Linked DNA regions of Homo sapiens: regions 1, 2, 4 and 5 are each linked to region 3. Evidence: fine-mapped expression QTL. A gene starts in region 3. Each other region holds a variant in brackets. All regions are shown on one strand. Distances are from middle to middle.

Evidence for each region. PIP is the estimated chance that this variant, and not a neighbour inherited with it, causes the effect.
Region 1: its variant is the best candidate, but not a certain one, in a credible set for the expression of PRRG4 in whole blood (TOPMed, PIP 0.50).
Region 2: its variant is the best candidate, but not a certain one, in a credible set for the expression of PRRG4 in whole blood (INTERVAL, PIP 0.58).
Region 4: its variant is the best candidate, but not a certain one, in a credible set for the expression of PRRG4 in whole blood (TOPMed, PIP 0.50).
Region 5: its variant is the best candidate, but not a certain one, in a credible set for the expression of PRRG4 in monocytes (TOPMed, PIP 0.77).

Annotation. Positions count from the first base shown.
Region 1 is chr11:32,737,720-32,742,826 of GRCh38, reverse strand. All of the region lies in intron 2 of CCDC73 (coiled-coil domain containing 73), which reads left to right. Among named protein-coding and RNA genes, the nearest start is that of CCDC73, 54 kb to the left of the region's middle. The variant A/G (reference allele first, on the strand shown) is at 2,886.
Region 2 is chr11:32,867,503-32,872,609 of GRCh38, reverse strand. No RefSeq gene overlaps it. Among named protein-coding and RNA genes, the nearest start is that of QSER1, 23 kb to the left of the region's middle. The variant TTG/G (reference allele first, on the strand shown) is at 2,225.
Region 3 is chr11:32,827,391-32,832,479 of GRCh38, reverse strand. PRRG4 (proline rich and Gla domain 4) reads right to left here and starts at 2,553. Exons shown (of 6, transcript NM_024081.6): 1 at 2,307-2,553; 2 at 1,848-1,972. The coding sequence starts at 1,950. It also overlaps a transcript of CCDC73 not described here. RefSeq lists enhancers at 1,857-1,916, 1,927-1,976 and a silencer at 2,397-2,776.
Region 4 is chr11:32,746,349-32,751,455 of GRCh38, reverse strand. The region is part of intron 2 of CCDC73 (coiled-coil domain containing 73); the gene reads left to right. Among named protein-coding and RNA genes, the nearest start is that of CCDC73, 46 kb to the left of the region's middle. The variant C/T (reference allele first, on the strand shown) is at 3,002.
Region 5 is chr11:32,882,480-32,887,586 of GRCh38, reverse strand. No RefSeq gene overlaps it. Among named protein-coding and RNA genes, the nearest start is that of QSER1, 7.8 kb to the left of the region's middle. The variant A/C (reference allele first, on the strand shown) is at 2,568.

The sequences.
Region 1 (5,107 bases), 90 kb after region 3:
AATCAACTCAAGATGGATCAAAGACTTAAATGAAAGACCTAGGACCATAAAAATCCTGGAAGAAAACCTGGGCAATACCATTCAGGACATAGGCGTGGGCAAAGACTTTATGTCTAAAACACGAAAAGCAATGGCAACAAAAGCCAACATTGACAAATGGGATCTAATTAAACTAAAGAACTTCTGCACAGCAAAGAAAGTATCATCAGAGTGAACAGGCAACCTACAGAATGGGAGAAAATTTTTGCAATCTACTCATCTGACAAAGGGCTAATATCCAGAATCTACAAAGAACTCAAACAAATTTACAAGAAAAAAGCAAACAACCCCATCAAAAAATGAGCAAAGGATGTGAACAGACACTTCTCAAAAGAAGACATTTATGCAGCCAAGAGACCTGTGAAAATATGCTCATCATTGCTGGTCATTAGAGAAATGCAAATCAAAGCCACAGTGAGATACCATCTCATGCCAGTTAGAATGGTGATCATTAAAAAGTCAGAAAACAGCAGATGCTGGAGAGGTTGTAGAGAAATAGGAATGCTTTCACGTTGGTGGGAGTATAAATTAGTTCAACCATTGTGGAAGACAGTGTGGCGATTCCTCAAGGATCTAGAACTAGAAATACCATTTGACCCAGCCATGCCATTACTGGGCATATACCCAAAGGATTATAAATCATGCTGCTGTAAAGACACATGCACACGTATGTTTATTGCGGCACTATTCACAATAGCAAAGACTTGGAACCAACCCAGGTGTCCATCAATGATAGACTGGATTAAGAAAATGTGGCACATATACACCATGGAATACTATGCAGCCATAAGAAAGGATGAGTTCATGTCCTTTGTAGGGACATGGATGAAGCTGGAAACCATCATTCTCAGCAAACTATCACAAGATCAGAAAACCAAACACCACATGTTCTCACTCATAAGTGGGGGTAGAACAATGAGAACACATGGACACAGGGAGAGGAACATCACACACAGGGGCCTGTGGGGGGTGGGTGACTAGGGGAGGGATAACATTAGGAGAAATACCTAATGTACATGACAGGTTGATGGGTGCAGGAAACCACCATGGCATGTGAATACCTATGTAACAGAACTTCACATTCTGCACATGTAATCCAGAATTTAAAGTATATATAAATATATATAAATACATAAAGAACATGTAGCGTGGCTGAATAGATTAAAAAAAAAGACTCAACAATCTGTTACCTACAAGAGACACACTTCACCTATAAAGTCACACATAGACTAAAAATAAAGGGATGAAAAAGATATTCCATGCAAATGGAAACCAAAAAAGAGCAGGAGTAGCTATATTTATATCAGACAAAATAGTTTTTGTTTTGAGAAAACAAAGAAGGTGTTTTGAGGGACAAAGAAGGTCATTATATAATGATAAAGGGGTCAAGTCAGAAAGAGGATATAACAGTTGTAAAAATATATGCATTAACACTGGAGCACCCGTATGTTTAAAACAAATGTTACTAGAGCTAAAGAGAGAGATAGACTTTCATACAATAATAGTTGGAGACTTCAACACTCCACTTTCAACATTGGACAGATCATCCAGACAGAAAGTCAACAAAGAGACACTGGACTTAATCTGTACTGTAGACCAAGTGAACCTAATAGGTACTTATAGAACATTTCATCCAATAGCTGCAGAATACAAATTATTCTCCTCAGCACATGGATCATTCTCAAGGTTAGACCATATGTTAGGCCACAAAACAAGTCTTAAAACATTTAAAAAATTGAAATAATATCAAGTATTTTCTTTGACAACAATGGCATAAAACTGGAAATCAATAATGAGGAATTTTGGAAAGTATGCAAACAATGGAAATTAAACAGTATGCTCCTGAATGATCAGTTGGTCAATGAAGAGATCAAGAAGGAAATTGAAAAATGTCTTGAGACAAACGATAATGGAAACACAACATACCAAAACCTATGGGATACAGCAAAATCAATAGTAAGATGGAAGTTTATAGCTGTAAGTGTCTACATCAAAAAAAAAGAAAAACTTCAAATAAACAACCTAATTATACATCTTAAGGAACTAGAAAAGCAAGAGCAAACCAAACCCAAATTTAGTAGAAGAAAAGAAATGATAAAGATCAGAGCAGAAATAAATGAAACAAGAAAAACAATACAAAAAAGCAACAGAAAGTTCTTTTTTTGAAAAAATAAAATTGACAAACTGTTATCCAGACTAAGAAAACAAGAGAAAAGACCCAAATAAATAAAATCAGAGATGAAAAAGGAGACATCACAACTGATACTGCAGAAATTTGAAGGATCTTTAGAGGCTATGAGCAGCTATATGCCAATAAATTGGAAAACCTAGAAGAAATGGATAAATTTCTAGACACATATAACCTACCAAGATTAAACTATGAAGAAATCCAAAACCTGAAGAGACCAATAACAAGTAATGAGGCAGAAGCTGTAGTAAAAAGTATCCCAGCAAAGAAAAAGCCTGGGACCCAATGGCTTCACTGTGGAATTTTATCAACCATTTAAAGAAGAACTAATACCAATTCTACTCAAACTATTCCAAAAAAAAGTAGAGGCAGAAGGAATACCTCCATAATCATTCTACAAGGCTGTTATTACACTGATACCAAACCAGACAAAGACACATTACAAAAAAAAGAAAGAAAAAGAAAACTACAGGCTAATATCTCTGATGAACATTGATACAAAAATTCTCAACAAAATACTAGCAAACAGCATTCAACAACAGATTAAAAGTATCATTTATCATGACCAAGTGGGATTTATCACAGGGATCCAAGGATGTTTCCACATATGCAAATCAATGTGATATAGCATATCAACAGAATGAAGGACAAACATATA[A/G]CTATTCCAATTTATTCTGAGAAAACATTTGATAAAATTCAACGTCCCTTCATAATTAAAAACCCTCAAAAACTGGATATAAAAGGAGCATACCTCAATACAGTAAAAGCCATATATGATAGACCAAGAGCTAGTATTATACTGAATGGGAAGAAACTGAAACCTTTTCCTCTAAAATCTGGAACATGACAAGGATGCCCACTGTTATTCAACATAATACTGGAAGCCCTAGCTAGAGCAATCAGACAAGAATAAATAAAGGGCATCCAAATTGGAAAGGATGAATTCAAATTATCCTTGTTTGCAGATGATATGATCTTCTATTTGGAAAAACCTAAAGATTCCACCAAAAACTATTAGAACTGATAAACATATTCAGTAAAGTTGCAGAATACAAAATCATCATACAAAAACCAGTAGCATTTCCATATGCCAACAGCAAGCAATCTGAAAAAGAAGTCAAGAAAGTAATCTCATTTACAATAGCTACAAATAAAATTAAATATCTAAGGAATAACTTAATCAAAGAATTGAATGCTCTCTACAATGAAAACTATAAAACATTGGTGAAAGAGATGGAAGAGAACACAAAAAATAATGGAAAGATATTCCATGTTCATGGTTTGGAAGAATCAATATTGTTCAAATGCCCATACTACCCACAGCAATCTACAAATTTAAAGCAATGCCAATGAAAATATTAATGGCATTCTTCAGAGAAATAGAAAAAAAAATTCTAAAATTTATATGGAACCACGAAAGACCCAGACTAGCCAAAGCTATCCTGAACAAAAAGAACAGAACTGCAGGAATCACATTGCCTGACTTCAAATTATACTACAGAACTATGGTAACCAAAACAGCATGGTACTGGCATTAAAAACAAACACATAGACCAATGCAACAGAATAGAGAACCCAGAAACAAAGTCACACACCTATAGTGAACTCATTTTCAACAAAGGTGCCAAGAACATACATTGAGGAATGACTGTTCAATAAATGGTGCTGAAAAACCTGGATATACATGTGCGGAAGAATGAAAGTAGACCACTATGTTTCCGTATACAAAAACAAAACCAAAATGGACTAAAGACTTAAATCTAAAACCTCAAGCCATGAAATTACTAAAAGAAAATATTGGGGGAAACTCTCCAGGACATTGGACTGGGCAGAGATTTCTTGAGTAATACCCAGAAGCACAGGAACCAAAGCAAAAATGGACAAATGGGATCACATCAAGCTGAAAAGCTTCTGCACAGCAAAAGAAACAATCAACAAAGTGAAGAGAAAACTCACAGAACGGGAGAAAATATTTGCAAATGATCAATCTGACAAGGGATAAATAACCAAAATACATAAAGAGCTCAAACATCTATATAGGAAAAAATCTAACAATCCAATTTAAAAATGGGCAAAAGATCTGAATATTTCTCAAAAGAAGGCATACAAATCGCACACAGGTATATGAAAAGATGTTCAACATCACTGATCATCAGAGAAATGCAAATCAAAACTACAATGAGATACCATCTCACCCCAGTTAAAGTAGCTTTTATCCAAAAGACAGGCAATAACAAATGTTGTTGAGGATATGGAGAAAAGAGAACCCTCATACACTGTTGGTGGAAATGTAAATTAGTATAACCCCTACGGAGAACAATTTGCAGGTTTCTTAAAAAACTGAAAATAGAGCTACCATATGATCCAGCAATCCCACCACTAGGTATATACCCAAAGGAAAGGAAATCAGTGTATCAAAGAGATATCTGTACTCCCGTGTTTATTGTAGCACTATTCACAGTAACCAAGATTTTGAAGCAACCTAAGTGTCTGTAAATAGATGAATGGATAATGAAAATGTGGTACATATACACAGTGTATATGAATGTATAACTCAGCCATAAAGAAGAATGAGATCTTATTACTTGCAACAACACGGATGGAACTGGAGGTCATTATGTTAAGTGAAATAAGCCAGGCACAGAAAGATAAACTTTGCATGTCCTCACTTATTCGTGGGAGGTAAAAATTAAAACAGTTGAACTCATGGAGATAGAGAGTAGAATGATGGTTACTAGAGGCTGGGAAGGGTAGTGGGAGTGGGGTTAGGGGTGAGCTGGGGATGGTTCATGGGTACAAAAAAAAATAAGACTGAATAAGATCTAGTAACTGATAGCACAATAAGGTGACTATAGTCTAATAATTTAGTTGTACATTTAA
Region 2 (5,107 bases), 40 kb before region 3:
GCTTTTGTGTCTGGCTTCTTTCACTTACTGAAATGCTTTCAAGGTTTACCAATGTTGTAGCATGTGTCAGTACTTCATTCCTTTTTCTAACTGAATAATATCCCCTTGTATGTATATACTACTTTTTGTTTATTCACTCATAGGTTGATGAACATTTGGGAGTTTCCACTTTTTGGTTATTACGCATAATGCTGCTATAAACAATTTTTTATGTGAACATACGTTTTCAATTCTCTTGAAAACATAATTGGAATTCTCTTGGAAAGAAAGTTGGAAAATTAAATTTTAAAGATGTCATCTAGAACAGTGTAAAAAGACATTAAGTACTTAAGGATGAATTTAACAAAATAGACGTAACTCCTATATACCGAAACCTATAAACATTGCTGAGATAAATTTAAAAGATCTTAATACATGAGAAAACATACTATGGGCTGGGCACAGTGGATCACACCTGTAATCCCAGGATTTTGGGAGGCTGAGGCAGGCAGATCATTTGAGGTCAGGAGTTCGAGACCAGCCTGGCCAACATGGTGAAACCCTGTCTCTACAAAAAGTACAAAAATTATCTGGGCATGGTGGCATGCACTTGTAATTCCAGCTGCTCAGGAGGCTGAGGCAGGAGAATCACTTGAACCTGGGAGGCAGATGTTGTAGTGAGCTGAGATCGCACCGCTGCACTCCAGCCTGGGCAACAGAGCAAGACTTTGTCTAAAAAAACAAACAAACAAACAAAAAAACTATGGATTGTTTAATACATGTAAGTTTTTCTATAAATTAAATGCAATTCTAGTCAAATTTTCAGCAGTCTTTTGATTTAGAAATTGACTAGCTAATTCCAAAATGTATGCAATGTTAAATGTATTAAATAGCCAAAAATTTTTTGGGAAAGAACAAAGTTTGAGAACTTAGACTACTTCTTTTGAAGACTTATGACAAGGCTACAGTCATCAAGATAATATGATATTGATATAAGGATAAACTATGATCAGTAAAACAGAACCCCATATGTGTGATCAATTGATTTTCAGCAAAGGTACCAAGATAATTCAGCGGAGAAAGGACAGCCTTTTAAAGATGTGTTGCTAAAACAACTGCATAGTTGCATGGAAGAAAATGAACTTCAGCTCTTACCTGATAAACATAAAAATTAGACTTACATGTAAAAGCTGCATTTATAAAGTGACTAGAAGAAAACATTAAAAAGAAATCTTCTGGCTGGGTGCGGTATCTCAACGCCTGTAATCCCAGCACTTTGGGAGGCTGAAGTGGGCAGATTGCCTGGGCTCAGGAGTTCGCGACCAGCCTGGGCAACACAGTGAAACCCCATCTCTACTAAAATACAAAAAAAAAAAAAATTAGCCAGGGGTGGCAGCATGTGCCTGTAGTCCCAGCTACTCGGGAGGCTAAGGCAGGAGAATTGCTTGAACCTAGTAGGTGGAGGTTGCAGTGAGCCGAGATGGCGCCACGGCACTCCAGCCTGGGCGACAGAGCGAGACTCCGTCTCAAAAAAAAAAATCTTCACAACCTTGAGTAGACAATGATTTCTTAAACATGAATTCACCATCTTCTTGGTTTTGCTGGCTTTCCAAATAAATCTGGCTTTTCCTCCCACCAACCCTCATTTCTCGTGTCTGGTTTTTGAGCAGCAAGCAGCCAAACATAGGTTCAGTTACAAAATTTGGCACCCAATGTGGGGCTGTGTGCCCTCTGGTGGTCTAGCCTGCCTGGTTTCCATGGATGGAGCAATTGGCTGCAGCAGTGCACCAGGGCTTACCTGTTCATGTTATCAGGCAGAGCAGCAACCGCTTATGAGTGCTAGTTGCTGCTCATGGCTAGCTGCCTCTGTGGCTGGGATTCCAGGAGTGTCCTAGCAGCAACTGAGAAATCTTTTGTCTTGGGGACCCTCTCTTCTGTCCCCTTCATGGAATCAGCAGCCTGTAACACTTTGGTGGTGCAAGTGGTATCCAAGGGAGTTGATGGGCCCCAAGACTGGGTAAGTCAAACCAGGGCACACACGGGGAATCCTCTGTCTATGCTATTTGAGCTTTTGTGTCATTTGGACATAGCATGGGTTGCTTGTGTATCATTTGGTGTAAGATAAGATTCTTGATAACATTTCTGCAGTGCCCCTTTTCAGGAATGAGTTTGGGAGTGTTACATTTGTTTTGGTTTCTATGTGTTTATTAGTTTATTATTATTATTATTATTTTTTTTTTTTTTT[TTG/G]AGATGGAGTCTCGCTCTGTCACCCAGGCTGGAGTGCAGTGGTGCGATCTTGGCTCAATGCAACCTCCGCCTCCCGGGTTCAAGTGATTCTCCTGTCTCAGCTTCCTGAGTAGCTGGGATTACAGGCAGGCGCTACCACACCTAGCAAATTTTTGTATTTTTAGTAAAGACGGGGTTTCACCATGTTGGCCAGGCTGGTCTTGAACTCTTGTCCTCTGGTGATCCACCTGCCTCGGCCTGCCAAAGTGCTGGGATTACAGGCATGAGCCACCGCGCCCGGCCTAATTATTATTTTTAAATTTTATTTTATTTTTATTTTTTGAGATGTAGTCTCGCTGTGTTGCCCAGGCTAGAGTGCAGTGGGGCAATCTCAGCTCACTGTAACCTCTACCTCCCGGGTTCAAGCAATTCTCCTGCCTCAGCCTCCCGAGTAGCTGGGATTACAGGTGCGCACCACGATGCCTGGCTAATTTTTGTATTTTTAGTAGAGATGGGGTTTCACCATGTTGGTCAGGCTGGTCTCGAACTCCTGACCTCATGATCTGCCTGCCTTAGCCTCCCAAAGTGCTGGGATTACAGGCATGAGCCACTGTGCCTGGCCTTAATTATTATTTTTTAAAAGAATTTCAGGCCGGGCGCAGTGGCTCACACCTGTAATCCCAGCACTTTGAGAGGCCAAGACAGGCGGATCACCTGAGGTCAGGAGTCTGAGACCAGCCTGGCCAACATGGTGAAACACCGTCTCTGCTAAAAATACAAAAATTAGCCGGGTGTGGTGGCTCGCGCCTGTAATCCCAGCTACTCCAGAGGCTGAGGCAGGAGAATTGTTTGAACCGGGAAGGCGGAGGTTGCAGTGAGCGGAGAATACACCATTACACTCCAGCCTGGGCAATAAGAGTGAAACTCCGTCTGAAAAAAAAAAAAAAAAAGGAATTTCAGTTAGTTTATCTTGAGACATAGCTTACATTAAAATTATATTAAAACAAGCTTTAATTTTGAGCCATACATTGATGGATTATTTTATCACAAGTAGTTCTTTATTTCTACTCACATTATTTTATTTTATTTTCACTTTATTTTATTTTTTACTCTATTGTTTTACTTTTAGGTTCAGAGGTACATGTGAAGGCTTGTTATATAGGTACACTTGTGTCATGGGGGTTTGTTGTACAGATTATTTCATCACCCAGGTATTAAGCCTAGTACACAATAGTTATTTTTTCTGCTTCTTCCTTCTTCCCACCCTCCACCCTCAAGTAGACCCTAGTGTCTGTTGTTCCCTTCTTTGCGTTCATGAGTTATTTAGCTTCCACTTATAAGTGAGAACATGTGGGATTTGGTTTTCTCTTCCTGCGTTAGTGTGCTAAGGATAATAACCTCCAGCTCTATCCATGTTCCTGCAAAAGACATGATCTTGTTCTTTTTCATGGCTGCATAGTATTCCATGGTGTATATGTACCACATTTTCTTCATCCAGTCTATCATTGATGGGCATTTAGGTTGATTCCATGTCTTTACTTTTGTGAATAGTGCTGCAGTGAACATTCGTGTGCATGTGTCTTTGTGTTAGAATGATTTATATTCCTCTGGGTGTATATACCCGGGAATGAGATTGCTGGGTTAAATAGTTCTGTTTTTAGTTCTTTGAGGAATCGCCATACTGTTTTCCACAATGGTTGATCTAATTGACATTTTCACCAACAGTGTATAAGTGTTCCCTTTTCTTTGCAACCTCACCAGCATCTGTTATTTTTTGACTTTTTAATAATAGCCATTCTGACTGTGCGAGATGGTATCTCATTGCGGTTTTGATTTGCATTTCTCTAATGTTCAGTGATATATTTTTTTTCTTATATGCTTGTTGGCCACATGTATGTCTTCTTTTGAAAAGTGTCTGTTCATGTCCTTTGCCCACTTTTAATGGGATTATTTTTCTTTTCTCTTTTCTTTTTTTTTTTTTTTTTTTTTGAGATGAAGTCTTGCTCTGTCACCCAGGCTGGAGTGCAGTGGTGCAATCTCGGCTCACTGCAACCTCCGCCTTCCAGGTTCAAGCTATTCTTCCACCTCAGCCTCCCGAGTAGCAGGGACTACAGGTGCATGCCACCATGCCCAGCTACTTTTTGTATTTTTAGTAGAGACAGGGTTCCACCATATTGGCCAGGCTGGTCTCGAATTCCTGACCTTGTGATCCACCCACCTCGGCCTCCCAAAGTGCTGGGATTACAAGCGTGAGCCACTGCGCCCAGCCTGATTGTTTTTCTATTGTAAATTTAAGTTCCTTATAGATGCTGGATATTAGACATTTGTCAGATGCATAGTTTGCAAGTATTTTCTCCCATTCTGTAGGTCCTCTGTTTACTCTGTTGATAGTTTCTTTTGCTGTGCAGAAGCTCTTAAATTTAATTAGATCCCATTTGTCAATTTTTGGTTTTGTTGTGATTGCTTTTGGTGTCTTTGTCATGAACTCTTTTCCCATTCCTATGTCCAGGATGGTATCACCTAGGTTGCCTTCCAGGGTTTTTATAGTTTTGGGTTTTACATTTAAGTCTTTAATCCATCTTGAGTTGATTTTTGTATATGGTGTAAGGAAGGAGTCCAGCTTCAAACTTCAGCATATAGCTAACCAGTTATCCTAGCACCATTTATTGAATAGAGAATCTTTTTCCCATTTCTTGTTTTTGTCAGCTTTGTCAAAGACCTTGTGGTCATAAGCGTGCAGCCTTGCTTCTGAACTCTCTATTCTGTTCCCTGGGTCTATGTGTCTGCTTTTGTACCAGTACCATGCTGTTTTGGTTACTGTAGCCCTGTAGTATAGGTTGAAGTTGGGTAACATGATGCCTCCAGCTTTGTTCTTTTTGCTTAGGATTGCTTTGGCTATTTG
Region 3 (5,089 bases):
GAATTTCACCAAAGGTCCTTTATTTCCAGTTACTTTTCATATCTCCATTTATTATAGCCCATTTGCAGATGGAAGGCATTGGCTTCTCTGCCATACAACTCTCTTGAGGCAGAGTTACTGCTACTCACTCTTTCCTCTGCTCTCAGTTCTGTGTTCTGGCTTCTGTTATACAGTTGATGGAGATCGTCTGTTTAACAAACACCCTGCCTCCCACACAGATGAAGATGTCCTCCAGGGCAGAGATTGCAGTCTTTCATTTCTATGTCTCCACCACACAGCACGGGGCCTGGCACTTAGCATGTGTTCATCAAGTGGTGACTGACTGAACAAGTTGTCTTTTCAAATGTGTCGGATCCCTCATTCACATTTCCACAGACATCTCCAGCCCTCCACACTCAAGTATGATCTCTAAATTCCTTCCATAGCTTGTGGTGTCCTTGAGACTGTCTTTTATTTATTTATTTATTTATTTGCTTTTATTTTTATTTTTTGAGATGGAGTCTCACTCTGTCGCCCAGGCTGGAGTGCAGTGGCACGATCTCAGCTCACTGCAGCCTCTGCCTCCCGGGTAGCTGGGATTATAGGCACGTGCCACCAAGCCAGGCTAATTTTTGTATATTTAGTAGAGACGGGGTTTCACCATGTTGGCCAGGCTGGTCTCGAACTCCTGACCGCAGGTGATCCACCTGCCTCGGCCTCCCAAAGTGCTAGGATTACAGGTGTGAGCCACCGTGCCGGCGAGAGTGTCTCTTATACCCGTGTCATGTGAATGAATGATTGCACTCACAATCATTTTAGGGAAGAGCATCTGATTATGGAACCTTATAAGTGCAACCTTCTAAGTGGACTTACATATATGGTGCAGCTTGAGAGGGACTAAAAAGGATCCTCTTCCAAAATCTCTCCCTCTCTCTCTAGCTAGCCTATCCAGTTGCTAGAATTCTGTCATCAGAGTTTCACGCCTTTGGGTTAATGGATTGTTCTAGCTCAACACACACAAACACAGCTGTATTAATCATTAATAAAGTCAGTTAGGAGTACTAGTGTAACAGATCCTTCCCAAATGAAAATGAGCTGAGAATCGGATCTGATGAGAAGGGATAAGAGACAGGAATGTGTGGGGACGTGGATCCAGAGTACTGACACTGAGTGGGGAAGCACCATGAATAGTCAGGGAGAAGGATGCTGAGAGACAGAGGCTTTTTTTTTCTTCTGGTTTTACTAGGTTAGGCTTTTAAGATATAGGCAGGAAACAAACTGTTAATGATCTGAAACCTAAAAACTGTGGACTTCCAGGTTAGCAAGCCCCAAACCTAATCTTTTCTCAACTAGCTGCTTTTATCTAGACAACTAGACCATCTGAAGTCAAAAAGGACCTCAGAGATCATTTTACGCCCCACCCGCATCACTTTTACAGATGAAGACATTCAAGCCAAACGGGATTAAGTTATCTCGCCCAGGGTCTCGCAAGTCCAGACTAGATCCTGGACTCCCCGTTCGCCTCTCCAGGAAGAACAAGTAATTATGCTTATTATAATCGCCACACAGCTTCATCTAGAGAAATGTCACTCACTGATTTTCAGAAGCTGAAATAGGTTTTCCATTCAATTAACCACAAACTAGGTCTTACGTATATACTTATTAAAGGAGACTCACAGACATCAAATTCTATAAATTGCAGTTAAAGAACATAAAAAAACACAACCTTGCCAAATATGCCACAAATTAAACTAAAGGATATTTTAGTGTTTCTATGATTGCTGGGGGTATGTAATTTCAAATACTGCACTTTCTCACTGAGATCTGTGCTATGCGGCTCTGGGTTCCAGGGACGTTTTAGTGCTTACCTTCTTCTCCCGCATGCTTAGAAGCCTTTGGACCTCTTGCGCAATGAGGAAACCCCAGGGTAACTGTGGGCAGTTGGCTGAGTAGAACCAGAAGCGTAAACATAGTCTGGCAACTGTCAAACAAACTAAAACAAACAAAAAAAAATATTAAAAAAAAAAGGCCCCTAGCTCAGCACTTTGAGTTTCTGTCGAACTGAATCACCAACCTGTTGTACTCAAAGCCTAGGCGCAAGAGCGCCCGGCGCGCGGTTTCGGTCGCCGGAACCCGACGCGCGCCCAGGAAGCAGCCCCTGAGAGCGCCTGGGACAAACGCCGTGCCCAGTGACCCTGCCGAGGGCTGATCGGGCACCTGTCGCCGCGGGCAACCCTCGCTATGTGTTCGAATCCAACCCAGTCCGCCGAGGTGGCCCCTTCCAGGTAACCCCCTCCCCGCCGAGGTCCTGCCGCCAGGCCTCGTACCTGTGTCCCCCCGCACATGTTCCAGCAGCCCCCGGGCCAGAGGCTCTTCTTGGGGCGGTTCCTTCGGCCGCCAGGCCCTCGGTCTCCGGCGCCCTCAAACCTCGGCGACGCTCCGGGCCTCGCTCTCCGCAGGGTCTGGATGGCCCCCGCGCGCAAACCTGGGAAGGGCCTGGGGTTCGCAGAGGGGCGCCCGGGGAACACGCGCGGGGTGAGGTCCTGCCTCGGTCCGGGGAGGCGGCCGACGGAGGACGGGAGGAGGCGGCTACCTGGGGACACCTGGCCGCGCCCCACCTCCCGGGGGCCGGGCCTACCTGCGGCGAGCGGGCGGGCAGTGGGCCGGCGTCTCCCGGGAGCCCGCGCTGCGCTCTCAGCCGCCCCAGCTTCTGCCCCATCCCCGGGCGGGCCAGCCGCCTGCCGCCAGTTCTGGCCCCGCCTTGGCGGCGCGGGTGGCTGCTTTTCGATTTGTGTCTGCACTCGGCGTTCTCAATGATCCTAATTCAGGAAGCATTTCGGTTCTCAGTCTTAAGCAGAGCGCCCTCGGCGCGTCCAGGGCTTTTCGCTTTGGGTCCCACTGGGCCAGGAGTCCTGTGGTTACCTTAGGTCAACTGTTCTCAAAAGGGTGGTCCGGGGACGAGGACAAGATATTCATCAGACAAAATACCCTTTATTCGTGATAAGAAATGGAAATGACCTTACAAGTAATTGATTACATTGGTTCTCCAATGGTGGTCCGCCAGGTCTGGGATGTCTCCAAGATCTTTTCCAGGGGTCTCTGAGGGCAAAACTATTTCCATTATAGTAACAATAAATGATTTGCCATTTTCACTTTCATTCTCTCAAGAGTGTACAGTGGAAATTTCCAGGGGCTATTTGAAGTGTAATAACGTCATCATTCTGTCTCCTAATAGAATACCTGAGTGAGCGTGCTTGTATTTTCTGGTATTTTCCATAGTAGTATGTTTACATTATCAGTATGTACATTTTATAGAGATTTATGTAGATTTATAGAGATTAATAAAATTTGTTCTCAGTACTTGTGAACTTAATTTTTTTTCTTTCCTTTTTTCTTTTTCAGAGTAGGGGGTCTCACTTTGTTGCCCAGGAACTCCTGGGCTCAAGAGATCCTCCTGTCTCATCCTCCAGAGTAGCTGGGACTACAGGTGTCCACCAACTCTCTTGGCTACTGCTTTTGTACTTTGATTAGTTCTATTTGTTCATATCTACTAGGATAGCTATAACCTCATTTTTCTGAAGTAATTATCTTGAAATCTTGATCTTTTCCTTGAGTCTATGCATAAACATAACAAAAAGTAAGCTTTGTTGTCTTGATTTCAAATAATATTTTGAAAATTTCTCAGTTTTAATGTTAGATAATAAATATCATTAGATAAAATTCACATAAGTGAAAGCTCTTTGGGGTCCTTGATAATGTAAAAGAGCGTAAAAAGGTCTTGATTAAAGACTTCAAAAACTGCTGCATCAAGTAATGAAGGCAGCAGGTGGACAGAGTACCTATGCCAGGTGATGGTCACATCCTTCTTTATCCAAAGAACGTGCTTAACAGTTCTTTGAAACACTATTTATGCTTTGGTCGAAGTGGTCTGGCACTTGCTGGGGACCAAGGGAAACATTTTTTCCCCCTTCATTTTTTTTTTTTTTTTCTTGAGACAGAGTCTTGCTCTGTCACCCAGGCTGGAGTACAGTGGCACAATCTTGGCTTACTGTAACCTTCGCCTCCTGGGTTCAAGCGATTCTCCTGCCTCAGCCTTCCGAGTAGCTGGGATTACAGGCATCCACCACCACGCCCGGCTAATTTTTTGTACATTTAGGAGAGAGGGGTTTTCACCATGTTGGCCAGGTTGTTCTCAAACTCCTGACCTCAGGTGATCCACCTACCTCGGCCTCCCAAAGTGCTGGGATTACAGGCATGAGCCACTGTGCCCGGCCTCAAATTTTTGACTAATTCAATTTTTACCAAATTCTGTTTTTCTCCTCCCAAAGGATATTGTCTATTTTATTATTATTATTGATAATCAACTGAATTATTCCTAAGTTTTCTGCAGAAATTTTGTTTTCACTGATTCCTTCTAGGCAGTGCTTTTCCTTTCCCTTCTTCCAATCCCTTCCTCTTCACTTTCCATTTGTCTACCTCGTGGTCTAAACTATTTCTATGATGGATTCTTCTTTCCCTCTTATTCAAGCAATTGGGATCAGACTATGAAGAGGCCAGACATGGTTTATTGTGGTTGAACACAAGAATAGGAAACATTTTCACTAGAACACCCATTTTCCTGTTTATTCATTGAGTCAACCTACAGCACTGAGACCTCCTGGTGGGGAGATGGACACCACAGCTTCTGTTGTGGAGGAGAACTTAATCTGACTGAGACCTATATCTGAGAATGTGGGCCTGTAAAGTTCTTATCAAGTGCAAGAACTGACTTATTCATTTTTGCATTCTCGACAGTACCCAGGGGAGTGCTTTCTACATTGTTCGTGCTGAATACATTTTCATGGAGTGGAAGCAATTTATCTTCAGGTAGGAAAAGTGCTTCATTTCCCACTACTTTGGGGAGAGGCCAATGGTCAAATGCCTCATGCTATGGAATCAGCAGTTGTGAACTTTGATGACATTCCTTGGTAAAATGAGTCTGCCCACATATCTGGATATTTGGACCAAAACAAATGAGGCCTTGTGCTGACATCAAATATCAGAGTTTATAGACAGAGAGGGAGGCAGACAGAGAAATGAAGTCTGTTTCTCAGTAGTGAATTACATCCCT
Region 4 (5,107 bases), 81 kb after region 3:
GGGTTTCCAAATAACACCAATCTAGGCCACAAGGACTACACTTCCTAGGCAAGTCCTAGTGCTGTACTGGTCTCAGAGCCAGTGGACTTGGACTGGTCTCGGAGCCATTGGAGAGAGCATGCGACCCAGTGACACACCAGTCGGGGTGGCAAAGGGAGTGCTTATGCCACCCCTCTTCAACCCCAGGCAGTGCAGTGTACAGCTCCCAAAGAGACTCCTTCCTGCTTGAAGAGAGGAGAGGGAAGAGGTAAGAGGATTTTGTTTTGCAACTTGGATACCAGCTTTGCCACAGTAGGATAGGGCACTGGGCAGAGTTATCAGGCTCCCATTCCAGGCCCTAACTCCCAGACAACATTTCTAGACACATCCTGGATTAGACAGGAAACCTGCTGCCTTGAAGGGAAGGATTCAGTTCTGGCAGGATTCACTACCTGCTAACTTAAGAGCGCTTGGGCCTTGAATAATCGGCAGCAATAACCAGGTAGTACATGCTGTGGGCCTTGGGTGAGACTCAGACATGCTGGCTTCAGGTGTGATCCAGCATATTCACAGCTATGGTGGCTATGAGGAGAGACCCCTTCCACTTGAGAAAAGGAGGGGGAAGAATAAAGGGAACTTTTCTTGCAGCTTAGGTACCAGCTTGGCTACAGTGGGGAAGAGCACCAAGTGGGCTCTAGGGGTTCCCAATTCCAGGCATTGGCTCATGGACAGCATCTCTGGACCTACCCTGGGCCAGAGGGGAGCCCACTGTCCTGAAGGGTGTGTCCTGGCCTGGACTTGGGCCTTAAGTGAACATCAGTGGTACCCTGTCAATACTCCCTGTTGGCTGTGGTGGTGGTGGCCATGGGGAGAGATTCCTCTGCTTTGGGAAAGTTGAGGGAAGAACGGGAAGAACCTTGTCTTGTGGTTTTGGTGCCAGCTTAGCCACAGTGGAATAGAGCACCAGGTGGATTTCTTAGGTTTTTGACTCTGGGCCCTGGCTCCTGGATGGCATGGACCTGCCTAGAGCTCAGGGACAGTCACTTCCCTGAAAAGAAGGATACAAGACTGCCTGGCTTTGCCACCTGGTGATTGTAGATCGCTAAGGCCTTGAGTGCACACTGGTGGTAGTCAGGTAGTGGCTATAGCAGGCCTTGGGTAAGACCCAGTGCTGTACTGGGTTCAGGTCTGACCCAGTGCAGTCCCAGTGGTGGTCGTCACAGGGGTGCTTGTGTCACCTGTCCCCCAACTCCAGGAAGCTCAGCACAGAGAGATAATCCATTTATTTGGTAGAAAGTGAGAGTAGAGGCCAGGAGCGTTGGCTCACGCCTGTAATCCCAGCATTTTGGGAGGCTGAGGCAGGCGGATCACGAGGTCAGGAGTTTGAGACCAGGCTGGCCAACACAGTGAAACCCCGTCTCTACTAAAAATACAAAAAATTAGCCGGGCGTAGTGGTCGGTGCCTGTAATCCCAGCTACTTGGGAGGCTGAGGCAGGAGAATGGCTTGAACCCGGGAGGTGGAGGTTGTGGTGAGCCAAGATTGTGCCATTGCACTCCAGCCTGGGCGACAGAGCAAGACTCCGTCTCAAAAAAAAAAAGAAAAAAAAAAAAGTAAGAGGAGAGAATGAGTCCCTGCTTGGTAATTCAGATAATTCTTCTGGATCTTATCCAAGACCACCAAGGCAATACTTCTGAGTCTACAAGAACTACATCGTTATTGGGCTTGTGGTGCCCCCTAGTGCAGATGCGGCTGCAGTGACAAAAAACTTAGATCACAACACTCAGGTCCCTTCAAATACCTGGAAAGCCTTCCCAAGAAGGATGGGTACAAAAAGGCCAGACTGTGAAGACTACAAAAAATACCCCACTCTTCAATGCCCAGACACTGACGAACACTCACAAGCATCAAGACCATCCAGAAAAACATACCTCACCAAACAAACTAATAAGGCAACAGGGACCAGTCCCAGAGAAAGAGAGACATGTGAACTTTCAGAGAAGTCAAAATAGCTGTTTTGAGGAAGCTCAAAGAAATTCAGGATAACACAGAAGAATTTAGAATTCTGCCAAATAAATTTAATAAAGAGATTGAAATAATTAAAAAAGAGTCAAGCAGAAATTCTGGAATTGAAAAATGCAATTGACATACTGAAGAATGCATCAGAGTCTCATAATAGCAGAATTGATCAAGCAGAAGAAAGAATTAGTGAGCTTGAAGACAGGCTGTTTGAAAATATACAGTCAGAGAAAAAAGAAACACACATACAAAATCGAGAAAATAGCCTCAAAAGGGCAAATCTAAGTGTTTTTGGCCTTAAAGAGGACGTAGAGAGAGAGAGGAGTAGAAAGTTTATTCAATGGGATAATAACAGAGAACTTCCCAAATCTTTAGAAAAATATCAATATTCAAATACAAGAAGGTTATAGAAAACCATGCAGATGTAACCCAAAGAAGACTACCTTGAGGCATTTAATAATCACACTCCCAAAGGTCAAGGATAAAGAAAGATTCCTAAAAGCATCAAGATAAAAGAAACAAATAACATACATGGAGCTCCAATACATCTGGCAGCAGACTTTTCAGTGGAAACCTTACAGGCCAGGACATATTTATGGTGCTGAAGGAAAAAAGGTTTTACCCTAGAATAGTATGTACAGTGAAAATATCCTTCAAACATGAAGGAGAAATAAAGACTTACCCAGATAAATAAAAGCTGAGGGATTTCATTAACACCAGACCTGTCCTACAAGAAATGCTAAAGAGAAGTCTTCAGTCCAAAAGAAAAGGATGTTAATCAGTGATAAGAAATCATCTGAAGGTAAAACTCACTGGTAATAGTAGGTACACAGAAAAACACAGAATATTATAACACTGTAAGTGTGATGTGTAAACTACTTATATCTTAAGTAGAAAGATGAAAAGATGAACCAATTAAAAATAATAACTACAACAGCTTTTCAAGACATAGACAGTATAATAAGATATGAATGGAAACAACAAAAATGTAAAAAGTGAGGAGA[C/T]AAAGTTAAATTATTGAGTTTTTATAAGTTTTCTTTTGCTTGTTTGGTAATTAGCTTGTTTGTTTATGCAATCAGTATTAATTTGTTATCACTTTAAAATAATGGGTTAAAGATAGTATTTGCAAGCCTAATGGTAACCTCAAATTGAAAACCATACAAGAGATGCACAAAAATAAAAAGCAAGGAATTAAAAAATACCACCAGAGAAAAATCACCTTCATTGAAAGAAAGACAGGAAGGAAGAAAAAAGGAAAACCACAAAACAACCAGAAAAAAAAAATAACAAAATGATGAGAGATAGTCCTCACTTATCAATAATAACATTGAATGTAAATGGACTAAATTCTCCAATAAGAACATGTAGGATGGGTCGCTTCCAAGATGGCTGAATAGGAACAGCTTCGGTCTACAGCTCCCAGGGAGACTGATGCAGAAGATGGGTGATTTCTGCATTTCCAACTGAGATACCTGGTTTATCTCGTTGGGACTGGTTGGACAGTGGGTGCAGCCCGTGGAGGGCGAGCTGAAGCAGAGCGGGGTGTCGCCTCACCCAGGAAGCGCAAGAGGTCAGGGGATTTTCCTTTCCTAGCCAAGGGAAGATGTGACTGTACCTGGAGGAACAGTACACTCCTGTGCAAATACTGCACTTTACCATGGTCTTCGCAACTGGCTGACCAGGAGATTCCCTCCTGTGCCTGTCTCGGCAGGTCCAACGCCCATGGAGCCTTGCTTGCTTGCTAGTGCAGCAGTCTGAGATTGACCTGGGATGCTGAAATTTGGCAGGGGGAGGGGCATCTGCCATTGCTGAGGCTTGAGTAGGTGGTTCTGTGCTCACCGTTTAAACAAAGCAGCAAGGAAGCTTGAACTGGGTAGAGCCAACTGCAGCTCAGCAAGGCCTACTGCCTCTCTAGATTCCACCTCTGGTGGCAGGGCATATCTGAACAAAAGGCAGCAGATAGCTTCTCCAGACTTAAACATCCCTGCCTGACAGCTCTGAAGACATCATTGGTTCCGCCAGCATGGTGTTCAAGCTCTGATGACAGACAGACTGCCTCAAATGGGTCCCTGACCCCCTTTAGCCTGACTGGGAGATCTCCCAGTAGGGACCAACAGACACCTCATATAGGCAGGTGCCCCTCCCTCTGGGACGAAGCTTCCAGAGGAAGGATCAGAGAGCAATATTTGCTGTTCTGCAGCCTCCACTGGTGATACCCAGGCAAACAGGGTCTGGAGTGGACCTCCAGCAAACTCCAACAGACCTGCAGCTGAGGAGACAGTCTGTTAGAAGGAAAACTAACAAACAGAAAGGAATAGCATCAACATCAACAAAAAGGACGTTCACACCAAAACACCATCCGTAGGTCACCAACATCAAAGACCAAAGGTAGATAAAACCACAAAGATGGGGAGAAACCAGAGCAGAAAGGCTGAGAATTCCAAAAACCAGAATGCCTCTTCTCCTCCAAAGGAACACAACTCCTCGCCAGCAAGGGAAAAAAACTGGACAGAGAATGAGTTTGACAAGTCGACAGAAGTAGGCTTCAGAAGGCCAGTAATAACAAACTTCTCCGAGCTAAAGGAGCATGTTCTGACCCATTGCAAGGAAGCAAAAAACCTTGAAAAGTTAGACAAATGGCTAACTAGAATAACCAGTGTAGAGAAGAGCTTAAGTGACCTGATGGAGCTGAAAACTACAGTACGAGAACTTCGTGAAGCATACACAAGCTTGAGTAGCCAATACGATCAAGCTGAAGAAAGGATATCAGTGATTGAAGATCAAATTAATGAAATAAAGTGAGAAAACAAGATTAGAGAAAAAAGAATGAAAAGAAACGAACAAAGCCTCCAAGAAATATGAGACTATGTGAAAAGACCAAATCTACGTTTGATTGGTGTACCTGAAAGTGACAGGAAGAATGGAAACAAGTTAGAAAACACTCTTCAGGATATTATCCTGGAGAACTTCCCCAACCTAGCAAGGCAGGCCAACATTCAAATTCAAAAAATACAGAGAACACCACAAAGATACTCCTTGAGAAGAGCATCCCCAAGACACATAACTGTCAAATTCACCAAGGTTGAAATGAAGGAAAAAATGTTAAGGGC
Region 5 (5,107 bases), 55 kb before region 3:
GAAGAAACTCCGGACACCCTCCGTTTAAGAACTGTAACACTCACTGCGAGGGTCTGTGGCTTCGTTCTTGAAGTCAGTGAGACCAAGAACCCGCCAATTCCGGACACAGTCCTAGCTACTCCAAAGGCTAAGGCTGGAGGATCACTTGAACCCAGAATTTCGAGGTTACAGTAAGGAATGATCATGTCACTATGCTCCAGGCTGGGCAACAGAGCAAGACTCTGTTTCTAAAGAAAAATTAAAATAAAAAAAGTTAGAAGGAAACTAAGTCCCACTATAATTTTCTCTGTCTCTGAGGCTTGACCCTATCAATCATCTTTTGACTCTGCTCATTGTTGTCTGCCATACCCCTCCAGGGAGACAGCAATGGAATCAGGAAAGCTGCTGTTTAACCCTGCTTCTCTGGAAGCTGCAGCCTCACTAGGGGGTGTCCCTGAAAGAGCTTCAAGAAACATACTTGATCATCAATTTTGTGCGGAGAGGTAGTTTTCTGAGCTACGGATATGGAGGGACTTTGGGGCACTGATGAATGGTTTCGTTGATCAAGGGCCTGCAGTAAGCAAGGTTGAATGATTAGAAACCAGGAGGTCTGGGAAAGGAGTACAATTTAAGTATGAACTGGAAAGACAAGGCTGTGGCCTTGTCATGAAGTCTTTCACTGAGAGGACATTTTATCTCCCTAAATAGATTACAGGAGATTTAAACCTGTAGGTGAGAGTGATTCTCATAAGAATAACTGATACATATTGACAATGTATGTCTTAGGTCCTGTGCTAAGGGCTTTATGTGGAATTGTCACAATCCTCCTAAGATCCTTAAGATGTGGATATTTTTTATTATTAATCCGTTTTACAGGAAATTGAAGCTTAGTGAAATTAAGTAACTTTCCCAACATTGTACAAGCTAATATAAGACAGTGATGCAGGCAGGGCCTGGTGGCTCACGCGTGTAGTCCCAGCACTTGGGGAGGCCCAGGTGGGCGGATTGATTGAGCCCATGAGTTCGAGACCAGCCAAGGCAACATGGCAAAACCTGTCTCTACAAAAAATACAACAAGTAGCTGGGTGTGGTGGCGTGTGCCTGTATACCAGCTACTTGGGAGGCTGCAGCAGAAGGATTACCTGAGCCTGGGAGGCAGAGGTTACAGTGAGCTGTGATGTTGCCATTGCACTCTAGCCTGGGCAAGAGTGAGACTGTCTCCAAACAAAAAAACAAACAAAAAACCACAATGATGCAAGTGGAGCTTCAAATCAGCAATTTGACTCCAAACCAAATAGGCTTGGTTAAAGGAGTTACTGCCAGATTTCTCCTCTAAAGAGTTACTACATTTTACTTTGTAATCAATAAGTATTTCGTGGATACTTGAATATTGTGTAAATTCCTGAGGCCGGTGCAGTGGCTCACTCCTGTAACCTCAGCACTTTGGGAGGCCGAGGCGGGCGGATCACCTGAGGTCAGGAGTTCGAGACCACCCCGGCCAACATAGTGAAACCCCATGTCTACTAAAAATACAAAAATTAGCCGGGCATAGTGGCGGGCACCTGTAATCCCAGCTACTCAGGAGGCTGAAGCAGGAGAATTGCTTGAACCCGGGAGGCGGAGGTTGCAGTGAGCTAAGATCACGCCATTGCACTCCAGCCTGGGCAGTAAGAGTGAGAATCTGTCTAAAAAAAAAAAAAATTCTCAAGGCATCATTCTTTCACCTCTGCTTTAAGCATATGTATTACTGAAACAAGCATGTTCCGTAATCCCCCTCGAAGGACGTGCGACAGGGGTGTGGCTTGCCTATTTGATTGCCACCACTGCTCAAACCCCTGATGGGAGGGGGAGCACGCAGACAGGCAGGTGCAGGAGCGCAAGTGGGTGTGTGTTACCGTGTGCCCTTTTAGCCTTGCCGTCTGCAGACAGCTTGAGTGTTAGCCAGCTCAATGGACCCTCTGCCTTTCTGCAAGAGCAGAGGGCCAGTGTGACAGCTTTCTGTATCCTGAGCTCTTGTCCAGCGTCCCAGAAGAATGAGGTCACACACAGGCTTGAAGGATGAATGTGGGGTTTTACTGAGTGGCGGAGGTGGCAGTCAGTGGGATGGATGGGGAGCTGGAAGGGAGGATGGAGTGGGAAGATGATCCCCTAAAGTTTGGCCATCCAGCAGCCAAACTCCTCCCTGACTGCCCTCAGTTGAACTCCTCTTGGCGTTCAGACATTCCTCCTCTTCTCTCTTTCCCTGCTGTGCTGTGCCACAGCTCATCTGCTTGTCTCCTTGTCTCCTCGTCTGCTTGTCTGCTCATCTGCTTCTGGAGCCTGGGGTTCCAGGTTTATATGGGTAAGAGATAGGGGGCATGGTGGGCCAAAAGGCAATGTTTTGGGCATGAAAACAGGAATGCCTGTCTCCATTTAGGGCCATGGTCTACAGGCTTGAAGGTGGGGCCTTTGCCAGGGAACCACCCTCTTCTACGCAGAATTTCCCGATCTCCCTGTCTCCTGTTCATATCATTAGTTTCCTATGGCTGCTGCAACAAATGACCTCAAACTAGGTGACAACAGAAATTCATTATCTCACAGTTCTGAAG[A/C]CTGGAAGTCTGAAATCAAGGAGTTGGCAGGGTCATGCTCCCTCTAGAGGCTCTGCTATACACATACAGAGGACCAACTGTAGTGATTTTTCTAACTTCATCATTCCTTCTACATCATTAGTTATCATTCTTCAAGAAGGATTGTTCCTCATCCCTGTTAAAAAGAAAAGCCTCAGACAAATTAAATTTAATAGAGTTTAATTGAGCAAAAAATAACTTGGATTGGGCAGCCCCTGGATCAGAATAGGTTCAGAGAGGCTCCAGCACAGCTGTTTGGTGGAAGAAGATTTACAGACGGGAAAAGGAAGGTGATATACAGAAAATGGAAGTGAGTATTGATATCATTTGGCTCTGTGTCCCCACACAAATCTCATGTTGCATTGTAATTCCCAGTGTTGGGGGAGGGACCTAGTGGTAGGTGATTGGATCATGGGGGCGGGTTTCCTCCTTGTTATTCTTGTGATAGTGAGTTTTCACGAGATCTGGTTGTTTAAAAGTGTGTAGCACTTCACCCTTTACTCTCTCTGTCTTAAGCTGCCATGTGAAGAATTGCTTGTTTCCCCTTTGCCTTCTCCCACAATTGTAAGTTTCCTAAGGCCTCTGAAGCTTTGCCTCCTTTACAGCCTGCAGAACTGTGAGTCAATTAAACCTCTTTTCTTGATAAATTACCCAGTCTCAGGTAGTTCTTTATAGCAGTGTGAGAACAGACTAATACAAGTATAAAAACAGCTGATTGGTTACGGCTCAGTGTTTGCCTTATTTGAACATGGTTTGAACAGTTGGCCACCCTTGGTTGGCTAAAACTCAGTGATTGGCACAAGAATAGGTACAGTCTGTTTACACATCCAGTTAGGTTATAGTTCACCATGTACGGAGAAATTTTTAGGCTGACCTTAAAATATGTAAGGCGGCAGCTTTAGGCTAAACTTAATTTAACATTCCTTGTTTATTTATATCAATATGTACTCATGGATTTTTATTTTATTTAGCAGATTTGTAAAGGATTAACTCAGCAGGTGTGGGTTGTTCAAACCCTGTACATTGCAAAGAAAAGTTTGGCCCTTGCCTAGTTTCAAGGCTCTTAATAAAGAGTATTTTTGTTTAGTTAAGGCCTTGGGCCACACCAGATCATTCATGCTAACAATGCGATTTATAGTGGGCACTTTGGGCCACATAATATCAGCTTGACCTCTAGAGGGACTGGAGAATTCAGGTCAGCCATAGGAGCAATTACTATGACTATGCAATTGACCCCCAATAAAAACCCTGGACACCAAGGCTTAGGTGGGCTTCTGATTGACAATACTTCACGTGTGTTGTCACATAGTATTAATGTCCGCACAGCTCCACTGAAAGAGGACACTGGAAGCCTGCATCTGGTCTTTCTTGGACTCTGCACTATGTGCATTTTCATATTGTTGATTTTAATTTGCATCCTTTTACCATAATGAATCATAACCACGAGTATAACAATGTGTCTGAGTTCTTTGAGTTCTTGTAGCAAATCATTGAAATTGAGGGTGGTCTTAGGGGTCCCCAACCATAGGATTATAATCCATTACCACATTTGTTTATTTTGATGTTCAAATAGTCCCAGATTTGGACCATCATCCAAACATATAAGTACTTTAGTATACTTTCTCACAATAGGGAGCCATGAGAACATTTTAAGCAGGAGGATGAGTTGATCAAAGCTATGGAAAACATTCTCTTGCCCTTCCTAATGTCCCACTCTAGTCTACATCTTCAGCCTGGTTGGAACTGGTATGCCAAAAGACCCTTTATAGATTTATACACACATACTACACACACACACATACACACACACACACACTAAGAAAAGAAAAAAAAAACATTTCATTACCTAGGACAGTCTCATTGTACACCTGTTGTCCCAGTTGTTTGAAAACACAGCTTGAGGCAAATATTTTTCAGAGGGTTTGCCTCCAGAGGACTGAGCCCCAAACTAAGGGTGGTAGAGCATGTATCCTCAAGCCTCAGCTTCTCTTTGCTACAGCCTGGCCTAAGACACCAAAGCACACTCTGCCCTCTGCACAGCTGGTTTATATCCTCCCCCTTCCCTTAGGTACTTCTCTGTTCCCTTTATCGCAAAGCCCCAGATACGGTGGTGATAAAGGAAGGTTGTTGGGAGAGATCTAGACTTCACTTAATTATCATGCATGTTAATTTTTTTTTTTTTTTTGAGACAGGGTCTTGCTCTGTTGCCCAGGCTGGTGCAGTGGTGTGATCTTGGCTCACTGCATACTCCACCTCCCAGGTTCAAGCAATTCTCATGCCTCAGCCTCCCAAATAGCTGGGATTGCAGGTGTGCACTACCACACCTGGCTAATTTTTGTATTTTTAGTAGAGACGAGGTTTCACCATGTTGGCCAGGCTGTATGTTAGTTTTAGTATATGTAGTCTAACTGATATAGTTTGGCTATATGTCCCCACCCAAATCTCATGTGGAATTTTATTCCCCATGTGTCAGGGGAGGGACCTGGTGGGAGGTGACTGGATCATGGGGGTGGATTTCCCCC